2 separate regions of the Homo sapiens genome follow, and region 1 is linked to region 2. Evidence: fine-mapped expression QTL. A gene starts in region 2. The other region holds a variant in brackets. All regions are shown on one strand. Distances are between the middles of the regions. Region 1 overlaps CSNK2A1 (casein kinase 2 alpha 1). Region 2 holds the start of CSNK2A1 (casein kinase 2 alpha 1).

Region 1 (4,394 bases), 63 kb before region 2:
GCTGCAGTGAGCTGTGATGGCGCTACTGCACTCTAGCCTGGGTAACAGAGCAAGACCCGTATCAAAAAACAAAACAAACAAAAAACTTCTAGTGAGTAGAGCGACAGGGAGACAAATCCAGTTTGTAATTTGCTACAGTGCAAAATATCTGGCTTTCCATAGAGGGAGTGGGAACAAGGCAATGCTGGCCTTCATTCAATCAGAAACTTGACTTGTACCCGTTGAAAACCTGTCATGTTTAATGCTTGGATATTTTTTCTTCTAGTAAAGACACTTTACTGCCACCTGCTGGAAAAGAGTCAGAAATTTTCCAAATGCAAACATCTATGGCCTCCCTATAATGTAGCATCCTTTTACTGTACATAGTCTGCACAACTGTACAATTTAGAAGAGAAACCAACATTTGGTGTAACTCTACCATATACCAGGCATCTGTCATAGAATCTGAACAACCGCTCTATGAAATCAGTACTTATACCCCAATTTAACAGATAGGAAATATTGGGACCTCTGGGGAAGGGAGGAAGAAGAGGGTATCACCAAAAAAGGGCAAAAAGGGGGCTTGGTCTGTATTGGCAATGGAAATTCAACTTGGGTGGTAGGATTATGGATGTGTTACAGCTTTCTTTATAATTTGGTACATGCCTAAAATGTTTTACAATAACAATTTAAATCACCTGTGAAGAAAAGATTCAGAGAGGTTAACTGATCAAAAAAATCACACTGCCAGACAGAACTCTGTTAGAGGTAGACCACTTGCAGTAACATTACATTGCTTCTCTAATGGTTAAATTTAGCACAGAATCAAAGGAGAGCTATAAAGTCTAGGAAGTACTTATTTACATAGGATTGAGTCCAGAACATCTTGTGACACCATCTACATATGTTTTACTTGGAGAATAGTCTGAATTTCGTATTACACGTTGAGCATTTCTAATTTGAAAATACAAAATCCTCAAAAATCTGAAATTTTTTAAGCATCAACATGATGCCTAAAGTAAATGCTATTTGGAATATTTCAAATTTCAGATTAGGAATATTGAACTGGTATGTATTCCGCAAATATTCCAAAAATCCAAAAAAATTCAAAACACTTCTGGTCCCAACCATTTTGGATAGGGGATATTCAACCTATATTACACACAGGTAATACAGCAGGGGAAAAGCAGGGAGACTGCAGCATCTAAGTCTACTAAATTGGCCAGGATCATTCCTTAGTCTTCAGATACCTATTTATCAGGGTCTCATTAAATAAAGTTACTTGTCATGTTAGTTCAGTCTGGCCTGTGGCTTGTAATTATAGCTGCAAACTCAAGGGCAAAGTTCTTAGGATTTTGAGATGCTCTTTATGCAACAATACTTCCATTTACTTTGTGTGTGTGTGTGTGTGTGTGTGGGTGGGTGGGTGTGTGTGTGTAGGGAGAGAAAGGGGGCAATGGAGTGGAGAGTGGAACTACAATTTATTAAGCACCTATTATTACAAGCCAAGTAGGGTGTTAAATATTTTCCTCGTGCCATTCCATTCAATACTCTTCGATCCTGAGGGAAAACGAACCCACTTAAAAAAAAAAACAAAAGGTTTTAATGAGGATTGCATAAGACATGCAAGGTCACCAGGGAGTTTACATGCAAGTGGGGAGATACAAAATAATACAACAAAAGTTCAGGTGTTCTGAGGAAAAAGAAGGGCAAGGGTAAGTGATGACAGTGGGGGAAGTCGGATTCAGGATAAACCAATTTTAGACTCATTTTTTGAGGAAGGAACTGAGCATGACCTTACCACACAGCCTTTTTAGTTAAGTGTTTCTTTAACTAGGAAAAGGCCCTGGGAAGACAGGCTCTCTACTATGCAAACCCAATTCCAGTCTTGGGAGAGAATTTGCTGGTGGGACAAAATCAGGTTTTTCAAGAGATGCTTAAATGGTCAATTCTAATTATAACCATACTTGTCAAAAGGTGAAGCAAAGATGAAAGTTAAAAACTAAGAAGAAATTAAAATTCCCAAATCTGTCAACCAATCTCTAATTTTCTCTGCTACTTTAGGACTATAGTAATTAGCCATACCCTGAGGATCTACTTTACAAGATATATTCCTCTGACAGTCCCACTCTAACAATTTAATCTATCTTATGTAAGCTGGACAGGCATTTCAAGTACAAGAAACAGAATTCAAAACGTGAAAACGGAGCCATCTATCACACACGGTGTCGGTTGGAGAAGCATATTGCTCAGGCTGCAGGGACATTTCATTTATTTAAATGTTTTTATTAAAAAAAATTAAAGACCTTCATGGCACAACTTCTTCCCAGCACAGTTATGGTTTAGTCATACCAATTACAATACAATTACAACCAATAAAGCAAGGTGGGGAGGGCCTTCTGGCTTCAAACTTAAAAAAAAGCAGAGGAAGAGGGGAGGGACCACTTCAAACAAAGTTTAAAAATACTTTAAAAAATCTTTCAGAGTAATTGCCAACATAACCTTTCATGTTGGCCATTCCATTTCCTGCCATCTAAGCAATGCAGACACAGGTAGTGCTGAGAAATAG[T/C]GTCCCAATACAAGGTATACAGATGAGGTAATTTACAACAACACGTAAGTTGTTACTCTGTAAACCCTTGCCTCCCCCCCACCCCCCACCCAATTGGGTCTTTTTTTTTTTTCTCTCTCTCCATGCTTCTGCAGTGACTCTTAAGTAGCATTTTTAAAAACTTCTATTTATTTTAAAAGGCTCTTGGGTGGCACCTCAGAGTCCTCTGCATTCACCTTCGGTTTATTCCAAGGTCTGATGGGTGTAAGGAGGTCCAGCTGTCTGCAGCTCTCCGCATCAGCCTAAGCTACACCTCAATTTCCGAGCTACAAGGATAGGGTATGAAGTCTTGATTTACAACCCTCTCCCCACCTCAAAAGAAAGAACTCATTAGTTATAAGTGTCCTGTTCAAATCACAATCCAGTGCAAACATAATCACAAATTGCATCTCTGGCACATCTGGTGCTTTTAGCTTCTGCACAAATTCAACATGGTAACCCTCACAGCATTCTAGGGCATAAAAGGGTCAAGTACAATAAATATCCACTGTAAGTGGTCATAAGGAAGAAAATCACCCTGCCACACAGTCAGAATGTTTTCCCTTCAGCTCTCCCTACCGTTGAGAAGCGCTATAAAAGGAGGCTTTAGCGTCCTCTAAAGTTTACCATTATATTCACTAAAGCCACCACCTTGATAAAGTTACTAAAGCCAAGATGGGTTACAAAGTTAGATAAGTTCATTAAATTCAACTCCCCAAACAATTACGTTTATCTATGATGCCTAGGCGAGAAAGGCCTGTGAATCTATAAGGTAGGAGAATGGGGAACTAAGATTTTAGGCCTTAAAATATGTTGGAAGAATTTTTCCTAGTTCCCACAAGCAGCTACTGTAATGAAATAACAGGAGAAAATACAGAGCTGATGGTTTTGCTATTGTGCTTAAAAAACTAGGCTTCCTCAGTGAAGCACCTGATAAACTTAGGTGGTTGGATTACAGTGGAAAGTCCACTTTACACACACACACAAACACACAAAAACTGGCGACTTTTTCCATCCCCAATCCCTGCACTGCTGAGACACAAAATGAGTTTTATGGCAAAGGATCCTTAATCCCCAGAGACGCTTTGGCTTGTGGTGCTTTTTTTTTAAGGCCTCTCTGCTCTGCCCGGTACCATGGGTCGAACGAGGGGTGTATAAAATGGGGGCCTTGGGAAGCCTCCACGGTACAGGGCTGCAGGCCCCTCAGATGTGAACATGAGACACCCACCCAGCAAGACCTTTACACAGGGAACTTAAATCTAACCTTGATAAATAAAACCAAACGTTTATTTACACCAAAGAATTCCAACACTGGATCTTTCACATATGAAGGACAAAGTATTATATATATACACACAGCAAGGGGTGGCGGGGCTGTAACAAGAGAGTTTATAGTTTTCCCACAATTACAGGTCTACCATTTCAGCTTCAATGGAGATAGTGGCTCTGCTCCTACCTCTCAAGATACATTTACAAGACTGAGGAGCAGGTCTTCTCACTGGATGGCATGTGAGGGAAGGGGACGGTCGGAGGAAAAGAAGGTAGAAAGCTTAAAATGGAAGTCAGTGTGGCCACATCTCCCATTAGCTCTAGCATGAAACCTGTACAGACAATGTTTGTTTCTTTTGTAAAAAGCAGTAAGTTATGCCCAGTAACTAAATGAATTCAAAATGGCCAAGACAAAGAAAACTAAGAAAGATTTTGCCTTCCCTCTCCTACCAGCTATGGAGCACAGCATGTTGGGAGATGAACAGGGAAAAGACCAAGGTAAGGAGCCTGGGAGGGAAGGTATCAACATTTTAAACTGAACTAAAAATAAAAGTATAAA
Region 2 (4,394 bases):
GTATTTCAAAGTCACAGAAGGACAAAAACATGCCCTGCTAAGACTGCAGGTGAACTTTTGAGAATACCACGGAGGAGAACTAGTATTGGTACTGGACTTTCAGCCCCAGGTCCACCAAGCCAGTAAAGCCAAATGACTTACAACAAAACCCTACAACAACTACAAAGATACTACTCTAAAGCCCTGTCTACAGTCAAATTCTTGACTATAAATTTTACTTAGAACAGAAGAGCCCCAAATATACCAGCTAGTCCCTTTACAGTGACAGGTAAAAGCTACTTACTACACTTACTACCTGCCAGACACTGTAGTAAGCACTTGACACAAATTGTCTTATTTACTCTTCTCCGTAAACTCACAAGCTAGAAAATACCATCATCCCCCTTTTACAGACGGGAAAACTGAGGCTTAGAGAGTTTAGGTCACACAGCTAAGTAGCAATGGCCCTGATATTTGAGAACCTAGGCAGTCTGGTTTTTAACCACTGGGCCTACACTGCACTCCTCAGATGGAATGAAGTCTCCAATTCTTGGAAAAATCTTCCCTTCTTAGTTTTCTTTTTTCTTTTTGAGGCGGAGTCTCGCTCTGTCGCCCAGGCTGGAGTGCAGTGGCGGATCTCAGCTCACTGCCACCTCCGCCTCCCAGGTTCAAGCGATTCTCCTGCCTTAGCCTCCCGAGTAGCTGGGATTACAGGCGCGCGCCACCAAGCCCGGCTGATATTTGCATTTTTAGTACAGACGGGGTTTCACCGTGTTGGTCAGGCTGGTCTCGAACTCCTGACCTCGTGATCCACCCGCCTCGGCCTCCCAGAGTGCTGGGATTACAGGCGTGAGCCACACGCCCGGCCTCTCTTCTTAGTTTTCATTTCCTCTCCCCATGTCCCATTCTCGTAGAATTAAACAGCTGAAAAGTAATCAAGTCTTCCCAAATAATTTGCCACCTTCTTTTCAAAACTCTTTCCTCCACACAAAGCAATAGCCAAGATGCAACTTCTCCTGACCCTGACTCTGCTTCCCCAAAACAAACTACAGAAGCTCCACCCATCACCTGCTTAATCTAGCAATGTTCCAACACTGCAAAAAACACACAACGAAAAACAAAATTGAAAAGTCCTACTCTTTCAAAAGGTCACCAACATATGTATACCCTTAGCCAAGCTTTCTCTCCATACCTCTTTTTCTATCCAGGCTCCTAACTAGTCCTTAACTCCAACTCCAGACGTTCTGCCCCACGTCTTGGTCCCTTCCCCCTTTCGCCCCAGCAACCCCGCCTGGGGTTCTCTCCACCTCGCACCCACTCTGCAGGTGGGAAGCTCAGCCCCGCCCAGAGGGACCCTAAGAAGGCCCCTACTCCAGCTGCCCAGTTTCGCGGGAGGGTTCACTGCACACTACCCAGCAGGCACCACTCCCTCCGCACCCTCCCCCAGCACCCCCCTGCGGCCCCACCCCTCAAGTTCCCTTCCCCCTCTGACGACCCCCTCCTCCAAGTTGTCCCCTAGTCCCCACCCAGTTCAGTCCTCTCCTCTGCAATAAGCTGGACTCCGGCAGCCGGTTCCCACCCTCACATCGGCCTCTGCCCCCAAACCTCGCCCTCCGCCCTGAGGGGTGGCCCCTGGGCCTCCCCGATGGGCTGCAGGGGCCTCGCTTGGTTTATGTGTGAAGGTGGGGGCAGGGGAAGGCGACGGGCCGCTCAGGAGTCTGCTGGAAGCGTGAGGGTCGGCCGCGCTCCGCTGCCCTATCCTGGGCCCACCCCACCCGCCAACGACCTCGCCTGGCTGCTCCCTAGGTACCTGTGGTGGAAGCGGCAGCGGCGGCGGCCGCTCTCCCCTCTGCTCACACAGACAATATGGCGGCGATGGAGGAGGAGACACACGGCTCGGCCGCCAGCCGCAGGGACCAGAGCGAGGCTGCAGCCGCTGCTGCCGGAAGCGGAAACCCCCTCCTACCAGGAGGCGGGGCGAGACAGCTTCCGACTCCGCCCCCAGAGGAATCTCTCTGAATGCGGCCATGCTGGGATGTCCTATTGTAACCTTAGGGATTCAGTTCTGGCCTAGGGTGCAAAATGGAAGGAATCCCCAACGCAAAGCAGAATAAGGAGACTTGCAATAGTTAAGCGCATTTTATTTCAATAGTGTTAACAAGTGACAACAGAGAGAACACGAACCTCCCATTAGGTGAACAGTTGGTTTGACCCAAGTTAAGATGGCGGTACCCAGGTTTCCCACACTTCACCCAGCTGGCCCCCCTTTCTTGAAAAGAACCATGCGCGACCTGCAGAGCTGTAGAGCCAAGCATTCTGGGAGCTGAAGTCTCTTTTGCTCTGACCCCTCGTTTTAAATTAGGGTTTCAGCAACACTTTCTATTCAAACTTGGAGTTCGGAAGAAGTGAATGAAAGTTGGACCCTAGGAAGGGCATGGCGCAGGAGTCTGAGAAGTGAGGATACTAGCTCTCAAGAGACCAAGGCCCAATTCCTTCCTCCTACAGGAGTCCTGCCAAGAGCTGTGCGTCCAAAATACAGTGTTTTTTTTTCCTTCTATCTGCCTCCCACCCCTGCTCTCCTTGCCCGAGCTACCTCCCCAAAACAGCCACAAAGCACTTTCTACCATGCAGAGCTCATCATGGTCTCCCTATGGTCAAAAATCTCCCATGGACCTCTTTATGCACCAAAGATAGCCCAAACTCTTCACTTGACATTCAGAGTCCTCCATAATTTGGCCAAACCCTCCTTTCCAGCCTCCTATTCTGCCACTCTCTTCTCAAATTCCGGAAGATTCCACCCACAAGACTGCAAACAATTCCTGGAACTTAGCTGTGTTGCCTCCCTCCCTTTACACTGGCAGTTACTTCTCTTACTGTCACCTCATGGACTGGATAATTTCTGTATGCCGATTGAACTAATTCAGGGATCCTTTCCTCTAGGGGTCTCCTCTCTGTTTAACTCCCTCCAACCCAGACACTATCAGTCAGTAACCTGAGGACCTCAGTCTGTCTCCTCCATCAGACTGGGAGCCCCCAGTGGACAGGGCTCCATCTGATGATCAACCTCTCCTTTGCAGGCCCTGATAAAAGCTGAAGCGTCTAAGAGTTGCTGAAAGGAGTTCAAGTATTAGTCTCACCTCTGGTGGGACAGAGGTGTGAGCACTGGAACGAGGGTGAGGAGGCCAGGTTCTTTCAGTACCAACCATTATCCCTAACTGTCTCAGAATAGCTGGTTGTCTCAGGAATGGGCCTCTCCACCCTCCACAGCCCTGCCTTCACAGTTTGTCAGCTGACTAGCACCTCTGCTCCCAAAGAGGCACCTCTTCCCCATGTGGGGTTAGGGCTGGTGGTGGCTGCAGACTTATAGTGATGGCCTCAGGGAGGTGGCTGTGGCCTTCTCTGGACCTCATCTGCTAGACAGCTTGTGACATCTGATCCCAATTGCCTGGGAACCCACAACAGTTTTTCTCTCAGTGTCCTGTAACTGGGCCTCAATTTCCCCACTTGTGGACTGAGGAGGTTATACAAGATAATCCCAAAGTTTCTGGGAAGCCATCTTCCAGGAAATGATACCCTTCTACCTACCTCTCGAACGTATCTTTTTGGCTCTTGTGGCTTTGTTTTTCCCAACTGTATTCACATTTGTTTAACTCACAACAATTCATCATTTGCTATGAGCCAGACACTGTGCTAGGTACTGGGGATGTGTTATGAGGAAGACATACACCAGTTGCTCACTGGTGGAGCTTACCTTCTAAAGTGAGAAGCAAGTAATGCACAGGTAAACAAATGCATAAACAAAGTAATTTCAGGTAGCAATAAGTGCTACGAAAGGAAAAGATAAGTAGCTGTGAAGTATAGAGCTTTAGCTTGAGTGGTTCAGAAGGTCCCTTTGAGAAGGAAACAGTAAGTGCAAACGTCCCAAGGCAGGAAAGAGCATCACAAGTTTGAAGAAGGAGGCCATGGTGGCTGAAGCACTGCAAATAAAGGGAAGAAGAGGAAGAAATATGGTGGGAGAGGTGGGCAGGGCATTCAGGTCATGATAAGGAAGCTGGGTTTTCATCTGAGTGTAGTGAGGATATTTCCCATTGCTTAGCCTTCATGCCTTTCCAATCTCAGCCTCTCTCACAGCATTAGTTCTTCATTCTTCTTCCTAGTTCTGGCCTCTATCCATGACTTCATTCAGAGGGCTCACCTGGGCACACATATACAACCCTCATACTCATGCAGGACATAATTGAAACCCAACTCCTGCCGTCTACTACGCCAGCCTCATGTAGGTCTCCGGTCTCAAGAGGCTTCCCATCCCAAGTGTTCACCTAGTTGTAGACTTAACATTTATCCTTAACTCTTACTGTCTCTGATCCCCCACATCACACCTCTCAGGCTAGTCTTTCTGCAAACAACAGCAGCAG

The links.
Region 1: its variant is fine-mapped to the expression of CSNK2A1 in whole blood (TOPMed, PIP above 0.99).

Annotation. Positions count from the first base shown.
Region 1 is chr20:478,863-483,256 of GRCh38, forward strand. CSNK2A1 (casein kinase 2 alpha 1) reads right to left here. Exons shown (of 14, transcript NM_177559.3): 14 at 1-4,394. Among named protein-coding and RNA genes, the nearest start is that of TBC1D20, 19 kb to the left of the region's middle. The variant T/C (reference allele first, on the strand shown) is at 2,549.
Region 2 is chr20:541,883-546,276 of GRCh38, forward strand. CSNK2A1 (casein kinase 2 alpha 1) reads right to left here and starts at 1,908. Exons shown (of 14, transcript NM_177559.3): 1 at 1,790-1,908. RefSeq lists enhancers at 228-921, 1,615-2,308, 1,794-1,943, 1,964-2,043, 2,154-2,203 and 1 more and a silencer at 1,414-1,473.